Linked DNA regions of Homo sapiens. The protein of the gene in region 1 purifies or fractionates together with the protein of each later gene. This does not show direct contact. Each region holds a gene or a part of one and is shown on either strand. Other genes may lie near its edges. The genes, in order: SPMIP6 and PSMF1.

Region 1 (3,816 bases):
CCAAGGAGATGGGGGAAGAGGATGCGACTGATGTGCGGGGTTTCTTCCTCAAAAACCCTCTGACGGGACCTCCAGAGCATATAGAGAGGCCAGGTTGACCTTGAGCCCAGTTTGAGAGGGACAGGGGTCGGGGACTTGGAGTAACCTTCGTGCTGGTTCTCCCGCCTCAGTTGTTAGTTCAGGCCTTGGAGCCCGAGGGCGGGACACGGCAGGGCCTCGAGAGCGTGCAGCGCGGGGCTAGAGCAGGCTGGGGGCCTGCACGGAAGCTGGCCGGGCTGGAAGGGGGCGGGGTTCTGGGGCGGGGCTTGTGTGGGGTGGAGCCCGGCTGAGGCGGGCGGAGCCCTGCGAACCTTACAGTCGGTTGCTCCCGGCACCAAGGCCGCAGGCGGCGGTCGGTGCAGGGCGCCCCGCTGGCGTAGTAGTCCATCCCGCGCAGACAGTAGTGGCGGCCCGAGCAAGCACTTTCGTAACCATGGAAGGGCAGGCGGCCGGGCAGCGGGTCCACGCACCCGCATCGGGGCGTGATCCGCGGCAGCTGCTGGTTCCGCGACAGTGAGTTCAGCATGTTCACCATCACTTCGCGCTCTGCTCCCGCGGGTCCCCAGCGCAGGAGACCCAAAGACAGATGCACAGGGATGGGAAGAGGCCGAGTCACGGACAGAGTGAGGCGGAGACAAAAGCCAGGACGGATAGATTCAGGGTTCCACCCTCTCCAGGACCCTCGGCCTCCTCCCCGTCCTTCAGGTACCCATCCCGCCCTCCTCCCGGCCTTCCCCAACCCTCTCCACCCGTTCTTTCCAACGCCCCACTACCACTCTTTACCGTAGGCATTGAGCCGCTCCGGCCTAGGAGGGCATTCCAAGGGCATTCCTCGAACTGCTGTCTCCATCCTGGCCTCCTGGAAGCGGCACACATGCTACCTCAAGCTCTGACCTGGCAGAGCTGCTCCCTTTTAGGGGTCCTCCCAGAACACCCAGACCTATCGCCACGCCGCAACTTCTCCCGCCCTTCAGCAGCTCCCCACCTCTCCAGGGCTCTGTGTTGGCGGCTGTCACCGGGCAACGCTTTTACATCGCCAACAGGGGCGGGGTGGGGTAGGAAGGGCTGAAGGTGGATGGGGTTTGGCTCCTGGGCCTGTGACAACCCTGTCTCAGCGTTTGCCTTTGATTTTACCCCTCTTTGTCTAGCTGACTCTGTTTAGCTGTGTCTGGGTGTCTCTCTAATAGGGGGTTTTCAATATTGCTTGTCATTCCGGAGAACTTGTGAAAGATTCGATTCTTGAGGAAGTTCTAATTCAAAAGGGTTCCATCAACCCAGGGTCAGCCATCAGCCTGCAGTTAAGAGCCCCGGCTCTGGTTTTGGGTCCTCTCAGGTGCCCTTGAGTTTGCGGCCGTGGCTGGACCTTCTCCTATGTCCTTGGAAGACTCTCCTGTATCTGCACTGCTATTGAGTAGCCTTAGTCTTTCTCCTTCCGTCTGTGCTCACATCACAAAGGAGGAGAAGGTGGAGCAGGGAGATTCATTGTATCACTGACTCCTTGGCTAGCCCCAGTATCACAGAGGCCAGACTATATGGGGAGGGGCCAGCTGGCAAGCTTCGGAAAGGTAGTATATCAAGGAGTGCACACCAGTCATGTCCCTACAGAGCCCAGCCAGGGATTGGAGCCCAGGGCACCCAATCCCCAGAGATTGAGAGCCAGGGGCCCAGCACAGCCCTACTTTTGGGTTCCTTTTTCAACTAAAAAAATTCAAACCCGGCCAGGTGCAGTGGCTCATGCCGGTAATCCCAGCATTTTAGGAGGCCGAGGCAGGTGGATCACTTGAGGCCAGGAGTCCAAGACCAGCCTGGCCAACATGGCAAGATCCCCGTCTCTACTAACAATACAAAAATTAGCCAGATGTGATGGCGCATGCCTGTAATCCCAGCTGCTCGGGAGTGTGAGGTAGCAGAATTGCTTGAACCCAGGAGGCAGAGGTTGCAGTGAGCCAAGGTTGCGCCACTGCGCTCCAGCCTGGGTGATAGAGTGAGACTCTATCTAAAAAAAAAAAAAAATACAAACTCTAGTTTCACAGATGCGGAAGAGCTCTGGGGCATTTGTTGGGAAAGCAATGAGGACCTAATGGTGAAATATCAGTCACTGTAGTTTGGGAGGTGGTGGGGTATGCGTGTCCCAGTCCCCAGACGTCTGTGCTGGGTGCAACAGATACCTTAGGCAGCCGAGGAAGGTAGGTGGTATACTTGTTGCAGCAGCTGCTGTTGTAAGGTTCCATCCTCCATGTGTTGTACCAGTCACTGCCCAGGTAGTTTGGGCTGCATTTGTCTGCTGGATAATAGGGGTGGAGATGTCAAATAGTGTTACTTCTTACTCTACTCCAGGATCTGAGATCCCCTACATGTTTCTCTTCCGATTCCCAGCACAAAGCTGACCCTCACAGACTGTCCTCAAGCCAGAGACCCCAAGCCCAGCCGGGCCTACACTTGTCTTAAACACTGAGATGCAGCCCATGTCCCATCTAAGGCAACCTTCTGAGTTTAGTCTGGATCCACTGTGCCAGCCACTTTTCATCCTGCCACTACCCTTTTTGAATCAGCCAGCCTGGACAAGGAGCCTCTTCCCAATTCCTCCCTCTCTCTCATCTTCTACTCTAGGCTCTAAGGTTTGCCTATTCTGCCTCCTTCAAAATCACTCGAATCTGGCCAGGCAAGGTGGCTCATGCCTGTAATCCTAGCACTTTGGGAGGCCAGGGCAGGCAGATCACTTGAGGTCAGGAGTTCGAGACCAGCCTGGCCAACATGGCAAAATCCTGTCTCTACTAAAATACAAAAATTAGTTGGGCATGGTTGGTGTGCGCCTGTAAACCCAGCTACTCAGGGGGCTGAGGCATGAGAATAGCTCAAACCAGGGAGGCAGATGTTTCAGTGAGCCAAGGTCATGCCACTGCACTCCAGCCTGGGTGACAGATCAAGACTCAGTCTCAATAAATAGATAAATAACTTGAATCTACTTCCTCTTCCAGTGCCCCATGATCTCACTTCCATATCTTTGCAGCACCTTAACCAGAAGACAATATAATGTCTTGGTTAATAGATACCTATCTCTGCAGATAGACTGCTTGTGTTTAAATTTCAGTTTTACAATTATTATCTGTGTGACCCTGACTGAATTAATTAATTTTGATGTGTCTCAGTTTCTCCAACTTTAAAATGGGGATAATAGTACCATTTACTTCACAGGGTTGCTGTGAGGTTTAAGTGAGTTAGTATATGTAAGACATTTAGAATGATGCTTGGCACATAAAAAACTATTATGATTATTCTACTGTTATCCTTGCCTCACCTTTGAAATCCTATAATCCAGCCTTGACATAGCACCTGTGGTACTTTTCACAAATGAAAATTTGACCAAGACACCCTCCTACTTAAAACCCTATAGGGTTTGTCTGCCTTAGCCCCCAGTCACCTAAGCCTGTCCTACAAGGCCCTCCATGATCCAACAGTCTGAAAGAATACATATGCGACACGGTGTGGAGGAAGCCCTAGCGAAGAGCAGCTGTCTGAGGGGAGGGGTGCAGTGCTGGGATTTGGAGTTCGGGGATGGCAGTTTGCACATACTGAAACTGAGGTGTTTGGGGACATCCAGATCAAGATGACTATAAGCATATGAAGAAGAGTGGAATTCTGATGAGAGGACAAATCTGGAAATTAGGATTTGAAGCTGTCAGTAATTAAAGGCTTGTGTTAAATCAAATGGCCTTGGAGGAGGAGCAAGGGGAGAAGAGGGTGCAGGATAACACCCTGAGGAACCCCATGTTTCCA
Region 2 (3,816 bases), on another chromosome or scaffold:
GACTGGCCCAGGGCCCTGTCTAGACAAAAAGCTCTGGAATGAATTAGCTGTGAATTACCTGGGCAGCAACCTTAGACTACTGCACATAAGCCCCAGAGGCACTGATCCTTGGACAGACTCAGGGGCTCTGTGTGGCCCCTAGAAAGAAATCAGGCAGGCTTAGGATTTTGGGTAATTAGGGTGACTAGTAGCAGTTCAAGAACTCACTGCTCCACTTACGTCTCCACTTTCTAACTCCATGCACCCCAAGACACTGATCATTTTGTTGAAAACACATACGGGCCAGGGATGGGGTCAAGTGGCAGGATGGGGATAGCTGGCTGGAATCCCTCTACAGAAGCATGGGCTTCCCGCTAGGCACTCTGTACTCACCAGGGAGGCTGCCGACTGGTGTGTGGGTGGTGTGGAGGAATCCGGAGTGGGTCCACCTCTCTGGCGGTAGCAGGGGGGAACTCCCGGTGGGGACTGCTTACATTAGCCTTTTCCCACTGCTCATGGATAGGTGTGATGATTCCAGACACAATACGAGACCGAAGCTCCTCACTGTTCTTGTAGGTCCTGCAGGAAGCAGATGAAGAGTCAACTGCTTGCAGTTGGCTAGGAACCCTGGAAGTGGTATTCTGGCTGCAACGACGGCGGCGGCGGCGGCCCTGATAGCTCCTGGCATTGCGCTTGGCCTGTTTATAAGTGGGGGAACAGGCCGCCTGCTGGACCTGGGTGAGGGGGGCAACAGCCCCACGCTGTCTCTGAGATTTGGGCCCAAGCTTCTTAGGCATCTGAGTTGCCCCTCCTTGTTTACCACCCCATTAGAAAGAGGTGAGGGTGTAGGGGCACAGGGCCTGGATTGGCTACTCCTCTGTCCTCACCCGCCTCACCCCTCCCTCAGCTTCATTGTGTGTTCATCACGTGTCATGGGAAGGGTCATGGAAGGCAAAGGCTCCATGGGGAGGATGAACCAGGTTCCTGTTCCAGGCAGGCAGAGCTCTGGGGGTTCAAGGTCCAGTTCTGTCACTAACTCAGGGGTCCTCGGAAGGCTGCCCCTACCACCTGTCCCATCCTGCCTGGGCCTCTTTTTCTATGCCTGTGAGAGACAAGTGACGTGAGCCACAGCTGAGGTGTGGAGGCAGGCTGAGGTAACAGAGTGGGCAGGACTCCAGGCTTCCTAAAACACTGGTATTTTAAAATGAACCACATCCTGGCCCATAAAGCAAAGCTCACAAATGTAAAATAACTGAAATCATATAAAGTATGTTCTCCAACCATATGGAATCATAACAGAAATCAAAACAAAAAGTTAACTCTCTAAATACATGAAAATTAAGCAACATACTTCTAGAAAATCCTTGGATCAAAGTCACAAAAAAGAAATATATAGCACTGAATTAAAATGAAAATAAAAACATACGAAAATATGTGGGATATAACTAAAGGATTGCTGAGAAGAAACCTCATAGCACTAAATGCTTACATCAAAATAGAGGAAGGAATTCAAATCAATAACCAAAATTCTGACCTAAAGAACCTAGAAAAAGAAGAGCAAATTAACTCAAAGCAAGCAGAAGTAATAAAGGTAAGAACAGAAGTCAATAAAAAAGAAAAACAAGAGAGAAAATGAAACAAAGTCAATTCTTCAAAAAAAAAGAATAAAACTGACCAACTCCTGGCGAGACTGACAAATACAAAGAGAGGACACAGTCACCAATAACAAGAACGAAACAGGAGATATTACAATAGATCTGTAGCCACTGAAAGGATAATAAGAGAATACTAAGAACAACTTAATCCAACAACTCAGAATAGACCAATTCTTAAAAACCATAAACTACAACTCAGCCAAAATGAAATAGATAATCTGAATAGTTCCATTAAAGAAACTGAATTACACTTAACATTCTAAAAAAATAAAATAAAAAAACAAAAACCAAAAATCTCCAGGCTCAGATGATTTCAGGAAGAATTCTACCAAACATTCAAAGAAGAATTAACACCAATTTTACAGTCACTTCTAGAAAATATATGAGGAGGGAATACGTTCCAATCCATTTCATGAGACCAGTATTACTCTGGTATCAAAACCAGGCAAAGACTACACCAAAAAAAAAAAAAAAATATATATATATATACACATATATAGACTAGTATATCCTATGAACTTACACACAAAAAAAATCCTCAACAAAATATGAGCAAATTGAATTTAAAAATGTATAAAAAGAACTATATGCCATGACCAAGTATGATTTGTTCTAGGCATGCAAGACTGGTTAATAGTCACAAATCAATCAACGTAATCTACCATATCAATAAGCTATGGAAGAAAAATCATATGATCATATCAATTGATACAGAAAAAAGCTTTTGACAAAATCCAACATGATAAATCCATTCAAGATTAAAAACTCTCAACAAACTAAGAATAAAGGGGAACTTCTTTAACCTGATAAAGAACATTTACAAAAAACCTACCCCTAACAATATACTTTACTGTGAAAGACTGAATGCTTTGCTCCTAAGATTGGGAACGAGGAAAGCATATTCTTTCTCATCACTCTTATTTAACATAATATTGGACATCCTGACCACTGCAATAAGGCAAGAAAAACAAAAGGCATTCATATTAGCAAGTAAGGAATAAAACTGTCCCTATTTGCAAATGACATGATAGTCTACCCTGAAATTCCCAAGGAATCTACCAAAAAAAAAAAAAAACAAAAAAACCCTAAACACCTTGAATTCAGCAAGGTGACAGGATAGAAGAGTTCAACACAGGAAAATCAACTACATTTCTACACACTAACAATGAACATTTGAAAACCAAAACAAAGGACAGAATATGCCATTCATAATCATCTCCCTTTCTGCTTTAAACAAATAACAAGCTATGTACAGGATCTATATGTTGAAAATTACAAATGATACTGATGGAAATCAAATAAAACCTAAATATTAATAAATGGAGAGATAAGATATATCATGTTCATAGCAAGAATGTCAATTCTCCCCAAACTAATCTATAGGTTTAATGCAACTCCTATCAAAATCCTAGCAAGGTTTTTCATAGATATACACAAGCTTACTCTAAAGTTTATATGAAAAGGCACAGAGGCCAGGTGCGGTGGCTCACGTCTGTAATCCCAGCACTTTGGGAGGCTAAGATGGGTGGGTCACGAGGTCAGGAGATCGAGACCATCCTGGCTAACATGGTAAAACCCCGTCTCTACTAAAAATACAAAAAATTAGCCAGGCATGGTGGCACGCATCTGTAGTCCCAGCTACTCAGAAGGTTGAGGCAGGAGAATCACTTGAACCCCGGAGGCAGAGGTTGAAGTGAGCCAAGATCACACCACTGCACTCCAGCCTGAGCCTTTTTGAGACACAGTGAGACTCTGTCTCAAACAAAGAAAAAAAAAAAGAAAGAAAAAAGAAAAAAAAGAAAAGGCACAGAACCTAGAATAGCTACAACTACCTTGACGAAGAAAAAGTGGGAGGAATTATTCTACTCAATATTAAGGCCTACAATAATCAATACTGATAGAGTAATATTGACAGAGGAAGAGACATAGAGATCAATGGAAAAGAACAAGGGATCCAGAGATAGATCCACAGATGTACAGACAACTGATTTTTGACAAAGTTTCAAAAGTAATTCAATGAAGGAATAACAAATGATGTTGGGGCCATTGGACATCCATGGGTAAAAAATGAGCTGCTTGCCTGCCCAAGCTGGGTGGGAGGGTAAATTCAAGTCTTCTTTCCTTTTAATCAGATCAGAGGGAGGCCTCTGATCTCCCTAGGCATGTGTAAAATTCAGGCCTG

Evidence for each region.
Region 2: the proteins of SPMIP6 (region 1) and PSMF1 purify together in Homo sapiens (affinity purification with mass spectrometry; 2 studies listed by BioGRID and IntAct, with this or other methods). This does not show direct contact.

The regions. Positions count from the first base shown.
Region 1 is NC_000009.12:34,380,547-34,384,362, forward strand, and holds part of SPMIP6 (sperm microtubule inner protein 6), read right to left. Parts: intron 2,324-3,816; coding exon 2,208-2,323; intron 1,580-2,207; exon of another isoform or gene 1,174-1,579; intron 1,164-1,173; exon of another isoform or gene 899-1,163; coding exon 823-898; intron 745-822; exon of another isoform or gene 586-744; coding exon 356-585; coding exon of another isoform or gene 351-355; intron 1-350. UniProt on the Homo sapiens protein: May participate in intramanchette transport and midpiece formation of the sperm tail. May play a potential role in somatic cell proliferation.
Region 2 is NC_000020.11:1,131,863-1,135,678, reverse strand, and holds part of PSMF1 (proteasome inhibitor PI31 subunit), read right to left. Parts: intron 559-3,816; coding exon 373-558; intron 1-372. UniProt on the Homo sapiens protein: Plays an important role in control of proteasome function. Inhibits the hydrolysis of protein and peptide substrates by the 20S proteasome. Also inhibits the activation of the proteasome by the proteasome regulatory proteins PA700 and PA28.